Linked DNA regions of Homo sapiens: all the other regions are linked to region 3. Evidence: fine-mapped expression QTL. A gene starts in region 3. Each other region holds a variant in brackets. All regions are shown on one strand. Distances are between the middles of the regions. Region 1 overlaps PARG (poly(ADP-ribose) glycohydrolase). Region 2 has its middle 24 kb from the start of WASHC2A. Region 3 holds the start of PARG (poly(ADP-ribose) glycohydrolase).

What was found. PIP is the estimated chance that this variant, and not a neighbour inherited with it, causes the effect.
Region 1: its variant is the best candidate, but not a certain one, in a credible set for the expression of PARG in lymphoblastoid cells (GEUVADIS, PIP 0.58).
Region 2: its variant is the best candidate, but not a certain one, in a credible set for the expression of PARG in neutrophils (BLUEPRINT, PIP 0.56).

The regions. Positions count from the first base shown.
Region 1 is chr10:49,814,818-49,823,001 of GRCh38, forward strand. PARG (poly(ADP-ribose) glycohydrolase) reads right to left here. Exons shown (of 18, transcript NM_003631.5): 17 at 5,348-5,476; 18 at 3,462-4,677. The coding sequence ends at 4,523. It also overlaps the pseudogene RPL21P89. Among named protein-coding and RNA genes, the nearest start is that of OGDHL, 57 kb to the left of the region's middle. The variant T/A (reference allele first, on the strand shown) is at 4,723.
Region 2 is chr10:50,039,872-50,048,055 of GRCh38, forward strand. It overlaps the pseudogene FAM21EP. Among named protein-coding and RNA genes, the nearest start is that of WASHC2A, 24 kb to the right of the region's middle. The variant CA/C (reference allele first, on the strand shown) is at 4,990.
Region 3 is chr10:49,938,532-49,946,715 of GRCh38, forward strand. It overlaps PARG (poly(ADP-ribose) glycohydrolase), which reads right to left and starts at 3,496. Exons shown (of 18, transcript NM_003631.5): 1 at 2,978-3,496. The coding sequence starts at 3,194. TIMM23B (translocase of inner mitochondrial membrane 23 homolog B) reads left to right here and starts at 3,522. Exons shown (of 7, transcript NM_001290117.2): 1 at 3,522-3,769; 2 at 6,501-6,559. The coding sequence starts at 3,664. TIMM23B-AGAP6 (TIMM23B-AGAP6 readthrough (NMD candidate)) reads left to right here and starts at 3,522. Exons shown (of 17, transcript NR_158661.1): 1 at 3,522-3,769; 2 at 4,704-4,827; 3 at 6,501-6,559. RefSeq lists an enhancer at 3,337-3,406.

The DNA of each region.
Region 1 (8,184 bases), 120 kb before region 3:
TGTGAGCCGAAACCTTACCTCTATGCCCCTTTTCTTTCCCACATTTATAACAATTATTTTCTCTGCATACAGTGAAAACCCCAATAGACATAATTATATTTTGCTTCAAAAAATGTAATTTCGAAACCCACAGAGGTGTATTGTATTTACCCATACTTTTACTGTTTCTACTCTTCCTCCCTGATCTTCCAAGATTCCTTCATTGATGGTTTCCTTTCTGTTTCAAGAACTTCTTTAGCATTTCAGCCAGAACCACAATTTTCTAATAATTCACCAAAATGACAAACACAAAAAGGAGGAGAGGCACCTGATATATGTTCTCTGGACCTTTTATAACATGCAGTTGTTCCTTTGGCCACATACACACGAATCTAACAAGAAAAGTCATACCATAGACATCAGTATGGGAACTGTTTGAAAAGGAATACCCACAAATGTTCCCATGGCAAAACTGGGAGTCCACAATGTTACCCACCATGCTATTGGCATTGTTGTAAACAAATTAAGGGGAATACTCTTGTCAAGAGATTAATGTGCATACTGAGTGTAGTAAGGACTCTAAAGGTTGAGATAGCGTCTTGAGAAGTGTGAAGGAAAATGACCAGAAAAAAAGGAAGCCAAAGAGAAAGGTACCTGGGCTTAACTGAGGCGCCAGCCTGTTCTTCTCAGAGAAGCACACTTTCTGAGAACCAATGGGAAGGAGCCTGAGCTGCCAGAACCTGTTCTCTACTAATTCATGCCATAATAGGTGTGTAACAACAACAACAACAAAAGACCTTTGCACTGTTTAAAAAAAACAAAAACAAAAACAAAAAAAACTTCCTTTAGCCATTTTATCAGGGCAGGTCTGCTGGCAACTAATTCTGTTAGTTTTCCTTTTTTGTGTTTGTCTTGTAGACAATGTGTCATTGCTTTTGGTTGCACTTTCCTGGTCCTTTAGCTACAGAGAATGGGCTCTTCTTGAGCCTCTGTCTACATACAGCCATTCCAGGTTGTTGGGTTCTCCAGTAACTGGTATTAAGTATGGGATATACAAGGCAGTAAGAAAATCCAGGGAACTCACCACTATTTTATTCCTTGATTCCCAAGGTCTCTAGCAATTCTGCCTTCTTTTTTCCAACTTTCAAAGTGTTCTTGTTTGTTTTATATATAATGTTCAGGGTTTTTTAAATGAGTTTAGAAGAAAGAATAGAGAAAAGTATGTTTATTCCATCTTTTGGAATCAGAAGTCCTTTTCCGATTATTTTGATGTGTGTGTGTGATGATCCTGTGGTCATCTTTTTAAGACATACTGATTTACAGATAAAATATAATGTCTGGGATGAACTTTGTAATAATTTGGCATGGGTAAATGGGTAGGAATATAGGTGGAAGTGAGATTAGCCATGAACGGATAAATATTGAAGATAAGTGACAGGTATATTACCCTATTTTATTTTTGTATATGTCCGAAATGCTCCTTTAAAAAAAATTTCCTGACTACCCCACTCTAATATTACAGAATCTTACAATAATCATGATTTATCTGTAGCTATTGTCTATGTTCCCTGGTAGAGTATAAACTCGTTAACAGGGATTCAGTCTATCTTGGTCACAATTATAAGCTCCAAAACTTTAAAGTGACTGGCATATAGTTGTTACTCAAATTACCACGTTTTGTCAAATACAAGATGCCATAGATTGTAAAATGTGTCTTAATTTTATGTACCAATAGGAAAAATTTCTGCAAATTGTGACACATACTACCAGTTTTCTTTTCTTTTCTTTTCTTTTTTTTTTTTTTTTGAGATGGAGTTTTGCTCTTGTCACCCAGGCTGGAATGCACTGGCATGATCTCGGCTCACTGCAAACTCCACCTCCTGGGTTCAAGCGACTCTCCTGCCTCAGCCTCCCAAGTAGCTGGGATTACAGATGCCTGCCACTATGCCCAGCTAATTTTTTATTTTTAGTAGAGATGGGGTTTCACCATGTTAGCCGGGCTAGTCTCGAACTCCTGGCCTCAGGTGATCCACCCACCTTGGCCTCCCAAAGTGCTGGGATTACAGGCGTGAGCCACTGCGCCCGGCCGACATACTACCAATTTTTAGAAGTATTTTGATTTGGGAGATGCTACAATGTGAAAACATGTCTATTGGTATCTGTGGAATAAATAAGCTGAAATAATGTGAGGTTTACATAATGGTGAATATGTGTTCAAGGACAGATCATGTATTAATTGATAACAGCTATATTTTTTAGTCTATTATCAATTCTTCAGTGAATGTTCCTTCCCAAATATTAAAAATTTATGTTCAAGTTTGTAGGACTATTACAAACCTTAATAGAAAATACAAGATTCCACAATGATGGTCTCCACCTTTTACCACCAAGAACCTCCTGTATTAATTTATCCCCAAGGTCTCCATATTTTAAAATACTTTGATAACCAAGTAAAGTTCACTTGTTAAGCTAATTTTGTCTTTTATGGATGAAATTATACTATTTGGATTGAGGTAATATAATTCCAGCTACAATAAAAGAAACTTCACCTTTTGCCCTACTTGTATGGATTCACTACAGGGAAATGTAACATTTCCATTAGAATATAACTTTGTAACCTCTAGTGCTACTTTCCTAGAGTCTAGGCCCCAGTGGAATGGGGATGGCAGTCACTGACTGGCTCTTAGCTCCTACATTAAGTCATCAAAGGGCATTTAGCTGGCCCATCTTACATTTATGTTAGGAGTTAGGCCATTTGTTTACACAGCTCTCCACAAAAGAGTCTTACTTTCTGTGTTTTGGAATACCCAGCTGGGTGACTTCTTACTTGGATTAATGATTTCTCTACCATAAGAACCAACCTACCCTATTCATGAAACATTTTAAAGAACGGGTCACTTAGTCTTGGGCTGCACAGGAGGAGACGAGTGTGGAGCTAGAAAAAGTGAGGACATGAAACAACCATGAATCTGCAACCAAAGCAAAGAATGGGAAAGATTTTAGTATCAACAGAACTAAAGACAGATTCTTCCAAATTTGAGAGATGACTAAAAATCTTAGTTATTGTGGTAAAAAACTTCAGTGACAAGTGGCTGCCTTCAGGTGCCAAATCTCACTATCCTCTCAATCTCTACATAAACAAAAAGTGTGATGGCCACCAGCCAAGGCCCTGTCTTTTTCCTGCCAGTAGCAGGAGGTCAGGCCATCCACTGAAGTGCCTTACGAATAGGATTTGACCGCCACTAGCGTTTCCTGACAGCTGATGGTAAACCAGAACAACAACAGGGTGGTTTAGGATTGTTTTGGAAATCTGAGTAGTAAGTGCTTCTGTGATGAAACTCCACTTTCGGTTAACACAGGATGGGCTTTGGCTTTCACTTTAACCTCTGAAAGACATTATTATTTATGTTTGTCGCCAGATTTAAAAATGCATAATTGTGATAAAGGACGTTAAACAGAACCCAAATAATGCCTAAACCTAATTGTTTCCCACCAGTCCAATTTTATTTAGATTTTATGTGCTCACATATAGACACACTTAAAGAGCATACGTTTATATATACATATATAAAATATAGATGATATGGGAGTTTCTGACAAAGTGATTTATTAATGAAAATTCATTCACTATATAACCTTTGAATACCAGAGAAACTTCAATATGTACAAATCAGCATGAAGTTCCCAGTTCTCAAACTTTGGTTATATGAATATGCCTCAAGCACCACAAAAGAAACATTAGTCCTAATTTAAAAAGAAAAAAGTACCAAGAAACAAAAAAAATCTTCAATTCTCTTGAATCTGTTTTCTTTACACCACATCAGGAAAACCTCCTTTTATTCCACATTTCCTTTCATCTCAGCCAGTCTCCAAAACTGGTATAAAAAAATACTGATCAGAGGAAAAAAGACAGACAAACCATTACAGATAAAAATGATACCTCAAAAGTACAATTTCTGGAAATTATTCTATCTTAAATAAAGAAACTATTTTAACCTAGGAGGTTTGCATTATGCAACACATATGAAAAAAACCCTAATTATTAATTTTCAGAATTTAAAAACTTAAACAATGCAAGCATATTAAGAGTTGAGTGGAAGGCTCACAGGGAGATTTTTAGCAAAATCAGTTAAAGAGATTCCTGGATTTCAACTTGTTTCCTGGCATCGCTGGCATCTGCGGGCTGCAGAAGCAACTGGTATAATATATGGGCAGGAAGAAAGAGACCCGACAGGCTGAGCACAACCTTCCATGGGATTTCACAAGAGATCTGATGGACAAAAGAAATAAACATCAAAGAATGAAAAACTGAAATAGAAGAAAATAGAAACAAAACATATCTAAGTCCACGTGAGTCAGGATGGAGGGAGTTTAGATGTACCAACTGACAACTGCACATGTGTGGAAGAGATTGCGTCCTTGACTACAAATGTGGATTATGTACACATTTATATTAACTTAAGTCAATTCATATATTACACCTGACAGCTCAAACAGGACGTCTCTGGTGGGAGGTGGGAGGAGATGCTATTCGCTCGGCTCCTCAGGTCCCTGTCCTTTGCCCTGAATGGTCAGCGGTCTCTGCACAGGACTCGACAGCATGGTATATGAATGGATAAAGCTTGATGTCTGGTCCAGGGGTGGAACAGTTTCTGCATTCTTCATTGTAGTATCGTAGCAACAGCTTATACACATCTCCTGGAGAGCAAAAGGTCAGACCAGAGGCACATTAAAGTATGTAAT[T/A]GAAAAAACCTTAGAAAGAACACTCCAGTTTTATCTTAATCTAAATGGCATATGCTCAGACTTGGCTTTTGAAAATACAGCATGAATTTCATATGCCTGAAAGGCTTTCCCAACATAAATTAAACAAGATTTTTAACACTCTTTAAAGAAACAACTTCTTTGCTCATGATAACAACAGGCTATCCATGGTACACTGTCCATGCACCCTCGTTATGCACTGTCATGGCAGCCCTCGTTATACACTTTGCTCCTGAGGTAGCAAGCACACTGGATGAGCGCTGGCAGGTCTGAGAAACAGGACAGTGGGGCTTCTCAGATCTGAACTTACCCTCATTCATCTTTCCCATTTTAGATTTTTATAGACAGAAAAGTAAAAATGAACACCAACTTCAGCTTCTTGACCTTACTTTAGTAAGCTGATATACCCTATCAAGACTGTGGATGAAACTCTGCCAGAACAAAAAGACTCTGCAAATGCTGCCCCTCTGAGGGTTTGTCCTTCCTGCTTAGAGCCATGCTTTTGTTTCTTCGTACCCACTGTGATTCATCCAGATTTAGCAAGTGTTCCCACTGAATGGTGTACAATCCATCTAGATACCAAGTGTCAAGAGTATCTCCTACTTACCAACAGTGAGTTTCCTTTCAGTAAGGAAAATGTGCATGCTGTAAATGTCTCTCATCAATTCTGAGTCCCCAAAGGTGAAATAAACCACATCTCGCTCAGCTGCAGCAGCTGCCAATATCTGTATTAAGGCTGAGGCAAAGAGAAAAGACACGGCTATATCATGACATTTTCCACCTAGATACCTTTAGCTCTTTACCAGCTGGTGTGCCACAGCTTCATCCTAGATTAAAGATTTATAAACCCAGTATACATGGTATTAGAAATGGGGAACACAAGGCTGGGCGCGGTGCCTCACACCTGTAATCCCAGCACTCTGGGAGGCTGAGGCAGGCAGATCACCTGAGACCAGGAGTTCGAGACCAGCCTGGCCAACATGGTGAAACCCTACTAAAAATACAAAAAAAAAATTTAGCCGGGTGTGGTGGCAGGTGACTGTAATCCCAGCTACTCGGGAGGCTGAAGCAGGAGAATTGCTTGAACCTGGGAGGTGGAGGTGGCAGGTGAGCCGAGATCGCACCACTGCACTCCAGCCTGGGTGACAGGGCAAGACTCCATCTCAAAAAAAAAAAAAAAGAAATGGGGAATACAGGATGGACATAAATCATCTAGTTGTGTGGCTTTTCAGACATGCTGCCAAGAATATCATCAAACTATAGAATTCCAACACAGGCACCTTTGCTGAACCACAAATAAAGGAAGCTGCAAACCATGGGACTAAGGTAGTATTTATATTCGCTTCTATTAATCTGGAACTAAAATTTTTTGTGTTTGCTTACTTGATATAATTGCTGTGTCTTATCACACAGCCACTGGCCTTTTGTATAGGCACATTTGGGAGGTTCTAATGTTCTCCTTAATCCCACAGCAGGAGTTCTCAAAATGGGCTGGGGAGCACACCTGCGTCCCTCCTGCACTCCCACCTCCACTGGCCACTGCAGAACTCCCGTTCTGCAGAGTTCCTGAAAACACTGGACAGTCACTCTCTGGTGTGTTATAAGAATGAAAAAACAATCGAGATCTACTATCTCCAGGAATCAAAGTTACAAATCACTGAGCCTGAAGTATGTTTCCGAAAATTTAGTTACCTTACAATCTCAATAGATAGGATTTTAAATAACCACAAAATTGAATACAGTTACAATAAATGCCCTTTCGCTAGTTATAAATCTCTTACTTCATAAAAGGGAAGATGGGAATCAAATTAAAACATTAAAGAGGATATATATATTTTTTGAGATGGAGTCTTGCTCTGTCACCCAGGCTGGAATGTAGTGGTGTGATCTCAGCTCACTGCAACCTCTGCCTCCCGGGTTCAAGCGATTCTCCTGCCTCAGCCTCCCAAGTAGCTGGGATTACAGGAGCCTGCCACCATACCTGGCTAATTTCTGTATTTTTAGTAAAGACACGGTTTCACCATGTTGGCCAGGCTGGTCTCGAACTCCTGACCTCAAGTGATCTGCCCGTCTCGGCCTCCCAAAGTGTGGGGATTACAGGCATGCGCCAATGTGCCTGGCCAAAGAGGGTATCTTTTTACAGTTTTGATTTTTGACAGCATGTTAATATTCTACATATTTACAAATTAAAATTAAAATACTAAGAATGGGAATGGGAAGAAACCTACAATTGAAGGTAAACTAAAATAAATGAGCGTAATTTTAGTCCAAATAAATAACATAACCACATTGAAGGGAAAGGAAGAAGAACAGGAAGAAAGAAAGAACCCAAGTAACTTACAAAGACAATATATGACTTATATAAGTCCATAAGACCATAATATATGGTCTTAGGCCAGAAAGAGAGAACTGCAAACAAATTCCCAACTCTTTTTACAAGGTTTGCTTACCATAGTAGTAGAGGTGAAGCAACTCTGAAACTATTTTGAATTGTATTAGAGGAATGAGCAAATGAATAAATGTGTTGATGCTGCTGGGAACAGGTGTCTCACTATGGAAGGAGGGACACACAAAAATGGAATGGAGGAAGACAAAAAAGAACTGTGTGAGGATGGACTGAAATGGAAGGCATTGGTGTATACTCATGATGTCGAAAATATGTGTATCTGTGTGTGTGTGTGTGTGTATGTGTGTGTATGCACATATATATTTCCTAGCTCTGTCTGCTAAAAGGGCCAAAAGGGAGACACCACAGTAGCAATGAGCACACTCAGCACCCAAATCTTGGTCTCTACCATCATTCCCCCTAAATGGAACTAGATTTCTCAAGAAGTGCTTAATGCTATAGTTTGGACAAGAAAGGTACAAGATGACCTCAAAATATTTTGTTATACCAGAAGGTAAAGTAGTGCTCAAATGGATAAAACAAAACGAAACAAAAAACAGACGGGCCAGCTCTTCCCCACAGGAGAAAGCCAAAGACTAACTGGTAAGTGTGGTTGGGGTGTTAGAATAGGAACATCCTTTCTTTGCAACCACTGTGGTAAAGGTCAGGCAAGAATCATTAACAGATGCCAAATCTAGGGAAAATTTTGCCTTTGTTTTCCTACAGATTGCTTATTAGTTACAAGAGAGGAAAAAAATCCTCAACTCTGCAGTGGGGAAACTGGGCAACAGCCTGACACAGTGATCAAAATTAAGATCACCAGTAGTGTCAGATGGCCATCAAGTGCCTCTTGACAGTGTCACTGATGCAGCATTCTGACAGAGAATGCATAACCTCAACCTCATCACAAGGAAACAGCAGACAAACTCAAAGAACGTTGTATTCTTTAAACACATCAATGTCATAAGAGACAAAAAAAGGCTGTGGAAATATTCTCAATTCAAAAGGAGGCTAACAAACATGACAACTAAATGCAGTAGCTGACCCTGGACCCTGTG
Region 2 (8,184 bases), 100 kb after region 3:
CAATTTTCATGGCCTAGTTTTGATCCTCGATTCTTGCCTTTCACTCTTTCAACCCATCTGTCCATGAAGCCAGTTTTAATTTCAATTTTGAAAAAATGTTTATGAAAACTAGATTAGGGTATCATATTTTTACATTATTCAGCAATGATGTTTAAGCAAGCAGAGAAGTCACACAAAGTTCTAAAATAATTTTATGTTTGACTTTAGAATGCATTGCAATGAAACCTCAACAATGAAGGAACTAAATGAGGGAAATGAACTAAGTTAGTCTAAACATGAAAAGGTTCCTTTTTGAATAGATTTCATTTTTTGAGCAGCAGAACTGAGCAGAAATTACAGAGTTCCTATATGACCCTCACTCCCACAGCCTTCTCCTATCACAACCTGCACCAGAGTGGTACATTTATTACAACTGATGAACCCCACAGTGACACATCATTTTCACACATAAATAGAAGTTTGTAATTTACATTAGGGTTCACTCTTGACGGATTTGAACTAATGCATAATGACGTGTATTCACCATTACAGTACCACACAGAATACATACACTGTGCTACAAATCCTCTGTGCTTTGCCTATTCATTCCTCTCTCCCCTCAGATCCTGGCAAACACTACACTTTTTACCATCTCCATACTTTTACCTTTTCCAGACATAATTCGGGATTTTATAGTATACGGCCTTTTCAGATTGGCTTCTTTCACTTAGTAACACACACTTAAGATTCTTCCATGTCTTTTCATGGGTTGATATAGCTCATTTCTTTTTGGTGCTGAATAACAGTCCATTGTCTGGGTATAGTACAGAGTTTATTAATACATTCATCTACTGAAGGACATCTTGGTTGCTTCCAAGTTTTGGCAATTGTGAAAAAAGCTTCCATACACATCTGTATGCAGGTTTTTGTGTGAACATGTTTTCTACTCACTTGGGCAAATTCCAAGGAGCATAATTGCTGGATCATACAGTAAGAATATGTAAGAAGTTGCCAAACAATCCTCCAAAGTACCATTTTGTATTCCCACTGGCAGTGAATGAGAGTTCCTGTTGCTCCCCATCTTCCCCAGCTTTGGTGTTGTCAGTGTTTTGGATTTCAGCCATTGTAACAGTCATGTAATAGTACGTCACTGCTGTTTTAATTTGTATTTCCCTAATGACACATAATGTGGAGCACAGTTATCTTTTGAAAATGTAGAACTGATCATGTTATTTCTTGCCTCAAGGTCCTATAATGACTTCTCCCTGTCTATAGAATATAATTCAGACTCCTTAGAAATGCTCCCAAGATTATGCATCTCACATTCCGGCCCCATTTTACTCATCTACAACCTCACCTCATCTTGCAACATCTCTGGTACTTCTATCCTCTAATCATCTGCATCTGCAGCTTCAGAACACATCAGCTTCTATATTGTTGCTCCTGCTCTGCTCTACTTACTATCTTGTGCACACATGGTTACCTGACAAGCACCTAATCACCTTTCAACATTCAGCTCCAATATCAACTATTCCACAAAGCTTTTATACCTACCCCCTTTACACTACTACCTACATCATATATTGCACCCATAACAATTTCTTTATTTTATTATTTCTTTATTTATTGAGACGGAGTCTCTCTCTGTCACCCAGGCTGGAGTGCAGTGGCATGATCTTGACTCACTGCAAGCTCCGCCTCCCAGGTTCATGCCATTCTCCTGCCTCAGCCTCCCGAGTAGCTGGGATTACAGGCGCCTGCCACCACGCGTGGCTAATTTTTTATATTTTTAGTAGAGATGGGGTTTCACCATGTTAACCAGAATAGTATCAAATTCCTGACCTCGTGATCTGCCCACCTTGGCCTCCCAAAGTGCTGGGATTACAGGCATGAGCCACTGTGTCCAGCCCCTAACAATTTCATTTTTAACTAAACTGAAGGGAGCACATCTGATCTCTACCACCTAGCACAGTCTTTTGCACATATTGGTACTCATTAAAGCTTTGTTCAAGGAAAGAATAGATATTTTAGTCTTTCAATTGATCCTCAGAACAAACCTGTGCTATAGGTAAGGTATTCTCCAAGTTTTAGACATTAATAAATATTTGGTTATCCTCTGTGTTAGCCTGTTCATATTGCTATAAAGGAATACCTGAGACTGGGCAATTTATAAAGAAAAGAGTTTTATTTTGGCTCACAGTTCCGTAGAGTGTACAAGGAGTATAATGCTGGTATCTGCTTCTGGTGAGGGCCTCAGGAAGTTTACAATCATGGCAAGAGGAAAGGAGCCAGCATGTTACATGGTGAGAGAACAAGAGAGAGAGAAGAAAGAGGTGCCAGGTTGTGTTTATTTGTTTGTTTAAGACAGAGTCTTGCTCTGTCACCCAGGCTGGAGTGCAGTGGCGCGATCTCAGCTCACTGCAACATCTGCCTCCTGGGTTCAAGCGATTCTCCTGCCTCAGCCTCCTGAGTAGCTGGGACTACAGATACGTGCCACCACACCTGGCTAATTTTTGTATTTTTAGTAGAGATAGGGTTTCAAGATGTTGGCCAGGATGGTCTCCATCTCCTGAAATTGTGATCTGCCAGCCTCAGCCTCCCAAAGTGCTGAGATTACAGGCATGAGCCACCATGCCTAGCCCCCAGGTTCTTTTAATCCAGATCTCATGTGAAATCAGAGTGAGAACTCATTCATTACCACAAGGGCAGCACCAAGACATTCATGAGGATCCACCCCCATGACCCAAACACCTCCCACTAGGCCCACTTCCGATACTGGCGGTCAGATTTCAACATGAGATTTGGAGGGGACAAAACATCCAAGCCATATCATGCTCCAAAAGTTTGTTTAGAGGGATGTTGGCTTCTCACAGGAATCCCATTCTGATTCACTCCAAATGAAGTCCATCAATGTTTATCCAACTCATAACATACATGCACATACAGGAATCTGCTATGAGTTTTTATAATATTAATAGGAAAGATAATTAATTTGGGAATCTGAATTGCATTGTTCAAACTTCTAGTGATCCTAAAGGGAGGGCATTACAGAAAGGAAAGTTGTTTCTTGTAGCATAGCTCTTTTGAGTGTTGTTGCACCACATTTCAAAATGATGGGTATTAGAGTAATACAAGGTACCAGGCTAATAATACTGCTGGTGATAGTGGTAAAGGGTCATTGCTCTTAAATAAAAGCTAAATTTAAAAGCTGCATTGCTTATATATGACTTTGTATGGAGCTCTCTAAACTTAACCCCCTTTCTTTCACTCATTCAAACAACTGCTTTTATAATTTTGGATAACATGAATTCTTAAAAACATACTTATGCTATATCAAATAAGACTGTCCTATAGGGTCACCAGTGTGTGTATCCCCGAAGCCAACAGTACTCCTACCTACATAGTTGCGGCTCTAGCAACAGAAGTCAGGTGTCAGGACTGCAAAATGCACATGACAGAAATAAAGACATGAGTGACTATGACTGCCAAAGGAATCTGGATTGTTTCCTTCACCACAGTGTTCTTCCATAGTGAGACCCTGAAAATAATAGGCTGGGGGAGGGTAGAAGATAACAAACAGATTTGCAAGTCCTTCACCTATAATGAGAATGGATAATTCAATTATATGCCAGAAGAAAAAGCACAACCCCGTTCAGTATTAATTGTGCTGGAACTTCCACCATAAGTCTGGGTCCAGTCAATGGGGTAATTTCCAATATCCTAAAAGAACTAAGATTGATAACCAAAAGGAAAATGTTTCCCTCTAGAAGATAGTTATGCTTCTCCTCAGGAGTAGAAATCACTGTAGCAGAGGACAAAATGAGGCCATGAAATCTGGTTAAGCCAGACTGGATGCCTAGAGGGTAGCTGAGGAACAAATGGAAGCTGCAGCAGGACAAAGACCCAGCCAGTACTAAAAGCTGGGTCCATGAACAGCTTCTTGAAATGGTGTGTGGTCGTGCTTAGCTGAGCATGCTGTGGGACTCATGATGTTGGAAAATGAGGGGGCAATGAAGACTTAAAGATGGGATGGAAAAACAGCTAAAAAAAACAAAACAGAAGGGGAACAAGAAACAAAACAGAAAAAAAGCTGGCCACGGTAGCTCATGCCTGTAATCCCAGCAATTCAGGAGGCCAAGGTGGGAGAATCACTTGAGGTAAGAAGGTTGAGACCAGCCTGGGCAACATAGCAAGATCCTTGTCTCTACAAAATTAAAAAAAAAATTAGCTGGGCATGATGGCACACATCTGTAGTCCCAGCCATTCAGGAGGCTAAGGTGGGAGGATCACTGGAGTCCTGGAGCTCAAAGGTGCAGCAAGGTATGATTATGCCACCGCACCCCAGCCTGGGCAACACAACCAGACCTTGTCTCAGAAAAAAAACAAAAAAAAATGGGGGCAGGTAGAGAAAAAAGTATTTCCAGAATTTTTTACAATTAAAACATATATCTAGCTATTAAAAGTAATGACAGCAAAAAGATTTCCAAATCAATTCCCAAAGCATTTCTCTCATCTCTTCTGAAAACGTCTGAAAAGACAACTATAAAGATGAAATAGAAGTTAAAGCTAAACAAGGCAATAGCGCTAAATATGTAATTTCAGTAACTCAGAATTTGCTCCATCCTCTGCTCTAAAAAAGCTTAGCTACAGAAGAGCAGTTACCTTTGAAACTTTTTCCCCAACATAAAGATATCCAGAATGTGAAGCTGCCATTAAAAATATTGCCATAGGCTGGGCGCAGTGTCTCATGCCTGTAAACCCAGCACTTTGGGAGGCTGAGGCATGTGGATCACAAGGTCAGGAGATTGAGACCATCCTGGCTAACACGGTGAAACCCCATCTCTACTAAAAACACAAAAAAATGAGCCAGGCACGGTGACAGGCACCTGTAGTCACAGCTATTTGGGAGGCTGAGGCAGGAGAATGGAGTGAACCCAGCAGGCGGAGCTTGCAGTGAACAGAGATCACGCCACTGCACTCCAGCCTGGGGGACAGAGCGAGACTCTGTCT[CA/C]AAAAAAAAAAAAAAAAAAAAAAGTCCAATGGCAATTTAGATTATAAAACATGGGAAGTAAAATAAAACTTATATTTGTTAAACTAAGTTGTATTTAAACTAAGTATTAAACTTAGTGCATCAGTCTTGAAGAAAGCTCATGCCTAAGACTTTCCTTTGAACTCAAATCTAGACAGCTGGGCTCTCTGACCTCACAGAGCTTCCCATGATTTCTTCCTCCAACATCTGCCATGATATCTCTTCCTACTGTGGTTCTGCACTATATTACGACAAGCGACTTGTTTATTTCAAGGGATCAACATTAATTACAGAGGCTATAAGGAAGCCGAATGTAAAAATACCAAGAACTCAAAAACTTCCAACTCCAGAGAAGAATGACATTTTAATTCTAAAAATCCTAAAGCAGATTGAAAAAAAAAGTGTAAAAACTCATGCAACACACATGTGAACAAGACACAATGAAAAACTGCTAGTAATCCTTTTACCACAAGTCTGAATGTGGCCTTTAGAAAGCATTTAGGGAAATTCTACTCGACTGTGCTCACACCCCTTCAAATCAAAGAACTCCCAAGCACTTGCATAAGTGCTGTATCTCTGGAGTCTAGAGTCTTACAAATCAAAGTGGAGTCCACAAGCCAGCAGCAGATTATGCAGAATTTCAGGCCCCGCCCCTATTTTCTGAGTCAGAACCTGCATTTCACAGGGTGCCCAGGTGATTTCCTAAACATGAAGGTTTGAGAAGTGCTCCTCAATGTTTAGCAGTGACTAAATGCTGAAATCCACTAGAGAGCATCACAAAACTCCAATGACGAGGCTGTACCCCAACCAGATTAATTCAGAATCTCTGGAGCTGGGATCCACTGTCAGCACTCATTAGGTCTTTTCTTTTTATTTTTTTTCCTTTTTTGAGACAGAGTCTCGCTCTGTGGCCCTGGCTGCAGTGCAGTGGCACGATCTTGGCTCACTGCAACCTCTGCCTCCCAGGTTCCAGTGATTCTCCTGCTTCAGCCTCCTGAGTAGCTGGGATTACAGGCAGGCACCACCACGCCCAGATAATTTCTATATTTTTTAGTAGAGACGGAGTTTCGCCATGTTGGCCAGCCTGGTCTCAAACTCCTAATCTCAGGTGATCTGCCCACCTCTGCCTCCCAGACTGCTGGGATTACAGGCGTGAGCCACTGTGCCTGGCCTGTCAGCACTCTTTTAAGTTCCCCATGGATCCCAGTGAGCAGCCGAAGTTGACAGCCTTTGTTCTAGGACAAGCTTGTCCAACCCGTGGCCCATGGGCCACACACAGCCCAGTATGGCTTTGAATGCGGCCCACCACAAATCTGTAAACTTTCTTAAAACATTATGGGATTTATGCATGAACCTTTTTTTTTTTTTTTTTTTAGTTCATCAGCTATTGTTAGTATTAGTGCATTTTATGTGTGACCCAAGACAATTCTTCTTCTTCCAGTGTGGGCCAGGGAAGCCAAAAGACTGGACGCCCCTGTTCTAGAACCTTGGCTATCTTTCCTCTGCATATCTTTTTGCTCCAAGCTTTAGGTAATGTTTTTATTTTCCCTGAACCACTATAATACTCTAGTAGGAGCAACTACACTGATGTCTGGCTGTTGCTACAGGGGGAACAATCACTGACAATGTTTAAAAGAAAAAAACTGGATAATCCATCATAAATTCATATGTTCGAGTAGAAAACACAAATTATATATGCTTGGGAATTCCTTGATGTGGAAATGTGAGCACAGCTGGGTGGGAATTCCTTAAATGCTTTCTAAAGGCCAGAGTCAGACTTTTGTAGTAAAAGGATTGCTAGCAGTTTTTCGTTGTGTCTTGTTCACATGTGTGTTGCATAAGCTTTTCTCTCTTTTTTTTTTTTTGAGACGGAGTTTCGCTCGTTGCCCAGGCTGGAGTGCAATGGCGCGATCTCGGCTCACAACAACCTCCGTCTCCTGGGTTCAAGTTATTCTCCTGCCTCAGCCTCCTGAGTAGTTGGGATTACAGGCATGCGCCACCACAAGCTGCTAATTTTTTTGTATTTTTAATAGAGACAAGGTTTCTCCATGTCAGGCTGGTTCCGAACTCCCAACCTCAAGTGATCTGCCTGCCTCAGACTCTCAAAGTGCTGGGATTACAGACGTGAGCCTCCACGCCCAGCCGCATAAGCTTTTAATACATTTTTTTTGCAATCTGCTTCGGAATTTTTAAATTGCTTTCAGTAAGAACATGAACATATCTATGACTTATATATCCACTTCACCCGCTCCTAACTTGCCTACAATGTTAAAAAAAAGAGGAATTATTATAACACAGGAAGATGTTTAACACTGAGGATTTTTTATGTCATCATATTTAAAGTCTTTTTCTGCACAGCTAAATCTGATTCCCTGCTACTAAATCTGATTGAGTTAGCAACTAAACTAACTGATTTGGTAGTATCTATCCAGATCACAAACAGAAATATTGTTAAGACTCCCTCAAAAAGGAGTTTAACCTCAATATGTAACTCCTCCTAACTATAGTTCTAAATTAATGAAACACAGTAGTCATTTAACAAGATACTAGTATATATGGCCATTGGGGTATACGGGACATGCTACCTCAAAATATGACACCTTGGCATTTGAGAAAACAGAAGCAGAAAGATGTCTCTGACCTCTCCCTGGCCCTTCTCCTCTGAAGGAGGACATAGAAGAATCCTCTAACCCTCTCTGGAGTAGGTCATAAGACCTTCATTCCAGTCCTCCCTATTCCCAGAGGAAAGGAGCCTCCTTATTTGTAAAGATGCAGAGAATGATCTGACCACACAGGCCTTGCTGAGCTCCCCCCAGCTTATTCCCATCAGGTCACACCCCTTTCATCTAATCGTGCTCCCCAAAACTGTCCGCTTCTTCATCAGACAGCATCAAATTGACACAGGATTTCCTGTTTCTCTTGAGTTTTTCTTTCTGAAGGCTCCTGTGTCTGGTAAAACTTATCTTACGTAAACTTGCACACTTTTCTCTGGTTAATCTGTCATTTGTTCTAAGGGACTCAACCATGAACCTAGCGATGGCTGAGAAATCATTTCCCCCCTAGCTGGCCTAACTCATTTGAAGGAGCATACACTATCGTGTGGGAGTCATACTTATTCCTAACCATTTTGAAGAGATTCATCTTTAAATTAATATATTACATTAAATGTCTTCCGT
Region 3 (8,184 bases):
CATCTGGATAAACCTGCGTCATCACAATGTGAATAACATGCTGAGTTCTGCCAATATGCAGGTTTGCAGATTTTTTTTTTCTTTTTTCAGAAGTGGGGTCTCGCTATGTTGCTCAGGCTGGACGGGAACTCCCGGGCTCAAGTGATCCTCTTGCCTTAGCCTCCCAAGTAGCTGGGACTACAGGTGCATGCCCAGCAAAATTAGCGATTTCAGTCAATACAAGAAATATATCCAGGAAGATAAAGAATATAAAATTTAAAGATACTGAATAAATATCCATTTCGCTACCCCGCCTACTTGTCCTAAGATAATTATATATAAAAATTTAAATACCAAGTTCCTAAAGGAATCCCAAAAATTCAAACAATGGGCTTTTGATACAAATATAGTCTTCGAACATTCTGTTAATTGGTGTCCTGTGCCAGGTATACAGAAAACATTTAAACATGCGAAATACAGCCCCAAGTATTCATTTGGTACCTCTTCTGCAGAAATCTTAATTAAGATCCAACCAGTGAGGACTGACTGCCCTCACCCCTATTTGCAACTAACTCCTCCTCCTTTACATGCAAATAAGGTTAATGAAACCACAAATTATCCAGTCACAGAAGCTGAAGTACACCTGAACGTATACCTGAAGTTCACCTTCAGTTCTCTCTCCCCTATACCAAGTTCTCTGAAATCTACATCCTAAATTTTAAATCCATCCCTTCCTCATACCCTTTAAACACATCGCTTACTAGACAACTGCCATTTGTTTCTTGCAACTAGTCTCCCTGTCTACAGCCTTGACTATCCAGTGTTCTACAAACTACAAATGACCAGTCATTTTTCAATGAAATAACACAGACAATATAAGAATGCATCACACATAGTAAGGTTAAGTATTATTTCATGAAACATTTATTTCAGTTATAAATATGGCTTATTTGCCAGGTTACATATATTTCTTACTCTGTGTACTGGATAAAATTTATGCTGTGGGTTGCAGTTAGAAAAGTCCAAAAGCCACTTTTCTAAAATATTAACCAAATGGTATTCCCACGCTTAAAAGCTTTTTAGTGGTTTCTCCATTAACCACAGAATAAGGTTGAAATTCCTTAAAATGGAATTTGAGTTTCTTCATAAGCTCCTGTCTGCCACCCAGCCTCATCAGACACTCCTCTGTCATCTTATGCTCCAGTCTTACCAACTTTTGCATGTCTTATTTCCTCTGCATGTATAATTCTTTCTCCTCTTGATTTATACAGCAAATCTTCCTCATCCTTCAAGGCCTAGTGCAAGTCTACTTGGTACTGCCCCTAAGTATGAAGACATCTAAGTGTAGACTCTTCACCAGAGAACTGCCCGAGCTCTGCCCAGCCTCTTACACTGTTAACGAATGCATCCTTTTTGAAATGATCTCCTTTGTCTGACACAACACAAGCCAGGCTTTCCTCCCACCTCTACAGCCGCTTCTCTTCAGTCTACTCTTAAACTTTGGTGTTCCTAAGGCATCTGCCCTAGGTCACCTTTACTTTCTCTACATGTTTATGTTATCTATGCCCATAGCATCCATTATAATGTTTATGCCACGAACTCCCCAATCTACTTCTCCAGCACAGAAATATTTCTTCTCAAGTATCCCATTCTTTCATGAATCCATCCCCTTCCCTATTGCCAGCATCCAGGCCTAAGCTACAATTATTTCCAACCTAGATTAACTCCTTAACTGAGTCTTGATGCTCCACTTGAGTTCCTTTTCAATCCATTCTTTATTTTCCACACACCAGCCACACAGACTTTTCAACAAATAAATAAGTCTAATCAAGTCACTCCCCTACTAAAAACCCTTGAGTAGCTTATCAATGCCCTTAGAGTTCAAAATCCTTAGCAATGTCTACATATCCAATTTGATCTGACTTTTCTGTACCACCCTGCAGCCTCATCTCTCACACTCTCTTGCGTTCACTCTATATATCAATTGCACTCCTGTTTTTGTTTTGTTTTGTTTTGTTTTGTTTGAGGCGGAGTTTCGCTCTTGTTGCCCAGGCTGGAGTGCAATGGTGCCCTCTCGGCTCACTGCAACCTCCGCCTCCCGGATGCCAGCGATTCTCCTGCCTCACCTGCCTCAGCCTCCCGAGTAGCTGGGATTACAGTTGCCCGCCACCACGCTAGGCTAATTTTTTGTATTTTTAGCAGAGACGGGGTTTCACCATATTGGTAAGGCTGGTCTTGAGCTCCTGACCTCAGGTGATCCACCCGCCCCAGCCTCCCAAAGCTCAGGGATTACAGGCAAAACCACCGCGCCCGGCCTCGGTTGCACTCCTGAAACACTTCTTACTTCCTCTTCATCTAACTCCTACTCATTCTACAGTCCTCAGAATAAGCATCTCATCTTCTGGAGGACTATTTTCGATTCCATAAATTCAGTTAGGTAAAACAATCTGTCATTCATCTATCAGAACATCCATTACCTTTTATTATATTAACTTTTGCTATCGTCTATCTCTCCAGATAGATTTTAAGGTATGAAGGCAGAGGCCAAGTTTCTCTCGTTCAACACTGTATACCAGGGACGGGTACAATGCCAGCTTAAACTAATAGCTCTGCACCCTGGGACCCAGAATCTGAACAAGTGAAGTTGTTTTCTTCCTATCTAGAGGCTGAAGCGCCCTACTGTTTTACATACACAATTAGATCTCCTTGACGACTAAGGCAATTTCTCAATCAAACCTGAAGAAGCAAACAGGTGGTGGAGTCTCCTGCCATTTTCCGCCCTGTGAGTGACTGCTCATCAGAGTTTCTCACATCAATCGCACTGGGAAAAATGCGGCCCCATTCACCCACTAGTGGCTTTGGTAGCTCAGCAAGTGGACCTCAAGAGTGACGATGCACACAAGACCAGAAAGGAGTGACTGGAGCCCCTGGGTCCTCAGACTGAGACCAGAAGGTTCGGGCCGAGGCGAAGGACAAAGATTTTTATTTTCCCACGTACCAAGCGAGGTGGCGCTGCCTCTGTGCTGTCCCGCCCGCCCTGGGACGCAGGCTGGCGAGGACGGTGGGACCCTGAACTGCACGTGAGCGTCCTTGGGGTCGAGGACGCGCCTCTGCCTGCTGGGAAAGCTCCGGGCGTCCGAAGCAGCCGGCGAAGTTGTAGCGGCGCCCCAGCGGGGTCGCTTGGTGCAGGGTTCACAGCCGGGGCCCGCATTCATGCTGGGACCAGCAGCGCACTGTCCCCGGGCCGGCCCGGGCGGAGAGCCTCATTCACTAACCCTGAGAGAGATGGACTGCGCCTCCTTCTCAGCGCCTGCCTGCACCATTCCCTCTCTGCCGCTGCCTGCTTCTGCAATTGCTGATCCGCCGGCCTCCCAAGTCAGGCCGTAAACACTCGCCTGCCTTCCCTCTTCCACTGGCACCCCACCTGCCTCAATGCGCCGCTTTGATTCGGGATTCGTTCACTTTCCCACCACCGGAAAGCTGCCGTCAGGCGCTTCCGGCTTCCGGGGCGCACACTGCCGCAAAGCGGAAGTGTGGCGCTTAACGGGAACCGGCGCCCGGAATGTCAGCGTGTGAAGTAGGCGCTGGCAACGCGGGGTTACCCGCTGTTATTGAGGAGTAACGGCCCAGCGGACCACCCAGGCTTGAGGCAGCGGCGGGAACCACTCGGTTTGCTGCGATACCATGGAAGGAGGCGGGGGAAGCGGCGACAAAACCACAGGGGTATTGGCCGGCTTTTTCGGAGCCGGCGAAGCAGGTTACTCGCACGCGGATTTGGCTGGCGTCCCGCGTAAGTATGGGGCCTAGCTTGCGATTATTTCTGACTGGTTCTTGCGTTTACACTAAAGTTGCGCGTCCCATGTTTTATGTTGTTGGTTTTTTTTTCCTTGCTGGCGTTTACAAGCTTAAGTACCAGTGGTGGGGTTAGTGTATCTGCATGGCTGCTCTTTCAAGATAGAAAGGCCTAAAAAAGGGCCACGGATCTCCTGGGGAAGCTGTCCGTGATTGACCTGGACTCGCGAGATGATGCATGTTTTCTTAGGTTTATATCCAAGCCTCGTACGTTTTGTGTGTGGTGGGCCGTGTGATTGACCCTTAAGAGTAGAGCCCAGCTTTGGGAGTAAATGTATTCCAAATAGCAAGCCCGTAGTTAACTTTTTAGTACACAGTGACATATTCTGAGCCTCCAAGTAGCCGTAAGGGCAGAATATTCAGTAATATTGCATGTAAGTGAGAAATAAATATGACTTGGGACAGGCTAGGAAACCTTCTTTAGGAGCTAGGAAGTAAGCTGAACTTTAAAGGTGATATATAGACATGAAGAAAGAAGCCAGGTAAGAATTATAGGAAAGGAAATAGGCAACATCAAGGTATACAGAGGCATAAATATCTTGCCTTTGCCTCTCCTCGGTCTTGTGAATATGTTTTCCAGAACTTTGGTACTTTGTAACTGTGGTTGTTCAACTAGATAAATAGAACTTGGACCTAAAGATAGGCAGTTGGTCGTGGATAAAGCCTTTACGAAAGTACTTTCTTTTTAGAGAATCCTTGTAATATTTCTCTAGGTATTTTATACTAAGGAACAACAACAACGAAATATGTTCAGACTGACTCTAGTGCAAAAAAATATAAAAGACCTTTCATTTCCCTGGTGTCACCTTTGTCAAAAAACTGAATCTACAACACATGGTGTTTTGTTTCGTTTTTTTTTTGTTTGTTTTTAGAGTCAGGACCTCGTTCTGTCACCCATGTTGGGGTGCGGTGGCATGATTATAGTTCACTGAAGCCTGGCACTCCTGAGCTCAAACAATCCTCCCCTCTAAGCCTCCTAAGTAGCTGGGAATCTAGGTACGTACCACCACACCTGGCTAATTTTTAAAATTTTTTTTTTGACTTATTGTGGAGATGGGGTCTCCCTGTGTTGTCCAAGCTGGTCTCAAACTCTCGAACTCAGGCCATCCTCCTGTCTCGGCCTCCCAAAATGCTGGGATTCCTAGGCCTGAGCTACTACTTTACCTGTTTAGAACACAGTTTCATATTAATCTTAGTATTTCTGAGTTTCAGAGCACAAAGGGCATATACACTTCCTTAATGTGACAATATTGTTAAATTAATTTGATTAAGATTTGAAGGTAAATTGGGGGACCAGGGAATGAACACCATTTACTGAGCTTTTACAGTGTGCTAGCTACTTTTCTGGGGGCAGGACTATAGTGGTTTTTGTGGGTTTTTTTTTTTTTTTTTTTTTTTGAAAAGAGGACCCTTGCGCTCACAGAGCTTACATAATACTGAGGTAAACCAACAAACATAAATTAAAACATTGCCTTTAGTGATAAGTGCTGTAAAGGGAATAAAGCAGAGTCATGAGATTGTGATGGAAGCAGGATGCCATTTTAGAGCGGATTAGGGAAAACATCTCAAGGGAGTTGACATTTGAGCTGTGACCCAAATACAGTACAAATGCTTGGGAGGCAAGTATCCAGGAAAATAGCTAGTGCAAATGTCCTGAAACAAAACAAATTTGGCATGTTTAAGGAACAGCTCTTAGGCCAGTCTGTCTTCGTAGTTACAAGGGAGTTGGATCAATTGAAGCTTGTGAAATCAGAGAGGTAGGGAATGACAGCTAATGTAGGATTTTGTAAGTTATGGTAAGGAGTTTCGATTTTCTTAAGAAAAATCACGTAGTTGCTATGTAGACAGTGAATTGAAGGGGTAAGAGAAAGCAAGGAGTTAGGAAATTGTTGCTGTGAGATATGATGGTTGGACTAGGATGGTAGCAATAGAGAAGATAAGTAACACAATTCAAAATGGGTATTAAAAATAGAACAAGCAGGACTCCTAATTGATGAAAAGATAGAGGCATGGGTGATGCATAGGTTTGTAAATAACTGCTGAGATACAGAAGGATCCAAAGATGATAGGTTTTACTGTTTTCAATGTTAGTGAATTCAGGTCTGGCCCTCTCAAAGTTTGTGTTTTCTTTTGCACAGACCCACATACCTGTGGTAATGACCCAAGGATTCTCAACCTTGCCACAGTAAATCAATCGTTAATAGTAATATGTGAAGGAACTGCCTTGAAATAGTTAGATACAACATGTACACAGTCAGAAAACCCAACCCAACCACTGTTTTTCCCATGGAATTGATTAGTCTTTTCTCAGTCTTATTTTGTAATTTATATAGTCACCAAGCATTCTTGTAGTAAAGTGAAAGAAATTAGCTTTGTAAATGGCCTGGACTACACTTCCTGTAAGTTCAAAAATCAGATCTATGACACTGCGATTATCTTATTGGTGTAAAAGCCTGAGCCACCAGTGGAAGACCTGGTTTGGGATTGAGGGTCTCAGGATGAGTCAGCCCCCAAACTGACAGATAGGGAGGATAAAATGGGAAAAAATTTTCTGCCTTCAGTGAGCCTATAAAAATTGCAAACACATGTAACAATCAGGAGCTGGATTAACTCTAACTGGATTAACTTAAAGAATTTTGTTGCAATGTGACATTTTGTTTTCTCTCTAGTAACTGGTATGAACCCTCTGTGTCCTTATTTAAATGTGGATCCACGATACCTCGTGCAGGTAAGACTAAGATTTTACTAGTTTGGTGCATTATTTTACCATTTTTAAAAAAACGCCAAGTGCTATGCTGACTTGAACTATGACATACACTTCTGGAGGCAGTAAGTCTCTGGTCTCCATTCACCCTTTTTTCCTCACAAACACCAGGAGCTTGGCCTGCATCTCTCTGAAACCAGTTAACTCCCTTCAAAAGCTTATTTTTTAAAACCAGAGCAGAATTAATTTTTGAAAGCACCCCAATAAAAGTATTGGGATGCCTAGTTACAAAGTGTGTGGGGTTTTTTTGTTTGTTTGTTTGTTTGTTTTTGAGCCAGAGTTTTGCTTTTGTCCTCCAGGCTGGAGTGCAGTAGCGCGATCTCTGCTCACTGCAACCTCAGCCTCCCAAATTCAGGCCATCGTCCTGCCTCAGCCTCCCGAGTAGCTGGGACTACAGGCGCCCATCACCACGCCTGGCTAATTTTTGTGTTCTCAATAGAGACCGGGTTTCACCATGTTGGCCAGGCTCCCAAAGTGCTGGGATTACAGGCAAAGTGTGTTTTAAAGCTCAGTTTACAATATCAGGGTTTTTTTGACTAAGCATCAAAAGTTTCAAAGAGTATCTTTTTGAATCCAAGATATATTAGCAAATATATCTTGGGTATATTAGAAAAGCAAGGTTGTTTTAACATCTGAAAATTAATGTATTGTGCCATATCAATTTATAATAAAGCAATCAAGGAAAGAATATAGTACAAAGACCACATGCTTATCTCAATAGATTCACAAAAATCATTTGACAACATCCAACACCCCCTTTAATGATTATAAAAACAAACTAGGCTGGGCGCAGTGATTCACACCTGTAATCCCAGCACTCTGGGAAGCTGAGGTGGGCAGATCACTTGAGGCCAGGAGTTTGAGACCAGCCTGGCCAACATAGCGAAACGCTGTTTCTACTAAAAATACAAAAATTAGCCAGGCGTGGTGGTGCCTACCTGTAATCCCAGCTGCTTGAGAGGCTGAGGCACGAGAATCGCTTGAACCCTGGATACAAAGGTTGCAGTGAGCTGAGAACACCCCACTACACTCCAGCCTGGGCAACAGAGTAAGACCCTGTCTCTAAATAAATAAATAAAACTAGACATAAAAGGGACTTCAGCCTGTTAAATGCCATCTACAGAATATCCAAAGCTAACATAATTTAATGGTGAAAGACTGAATGCCTTCTCCCTAAGATCAGGAACAAAATAAGTATATTTACTCTCATTTATATTCAGCATTGTCTGGCCAGGGCAATTAGTCAAGTACATTAAATGGCATTCAAGTTGAAAAAGAAGTTAAACTATCTGTTTACAAATGACATGATCTTATCTATAGAAAATCACAAGGGAAATCACAAAAATCTGTTAAAACTAATGATCGAGTTCAGCAAGTTGCAGAATACAAGTTCAATATACATAAATATATTTCTAGACAGTTGCAATGAACACTACAAAAATGAAATTACAAAAAACAGTTGATTACCAATAACATCAAAAAGCAAATACTTAGAAATAAATGGACCAGGTGCAAAACATATTCTGAAAACTATAAAACATTATTGAAATTAAGTGGAAAGACACATGCTATGATCCTGAAAATTTTAA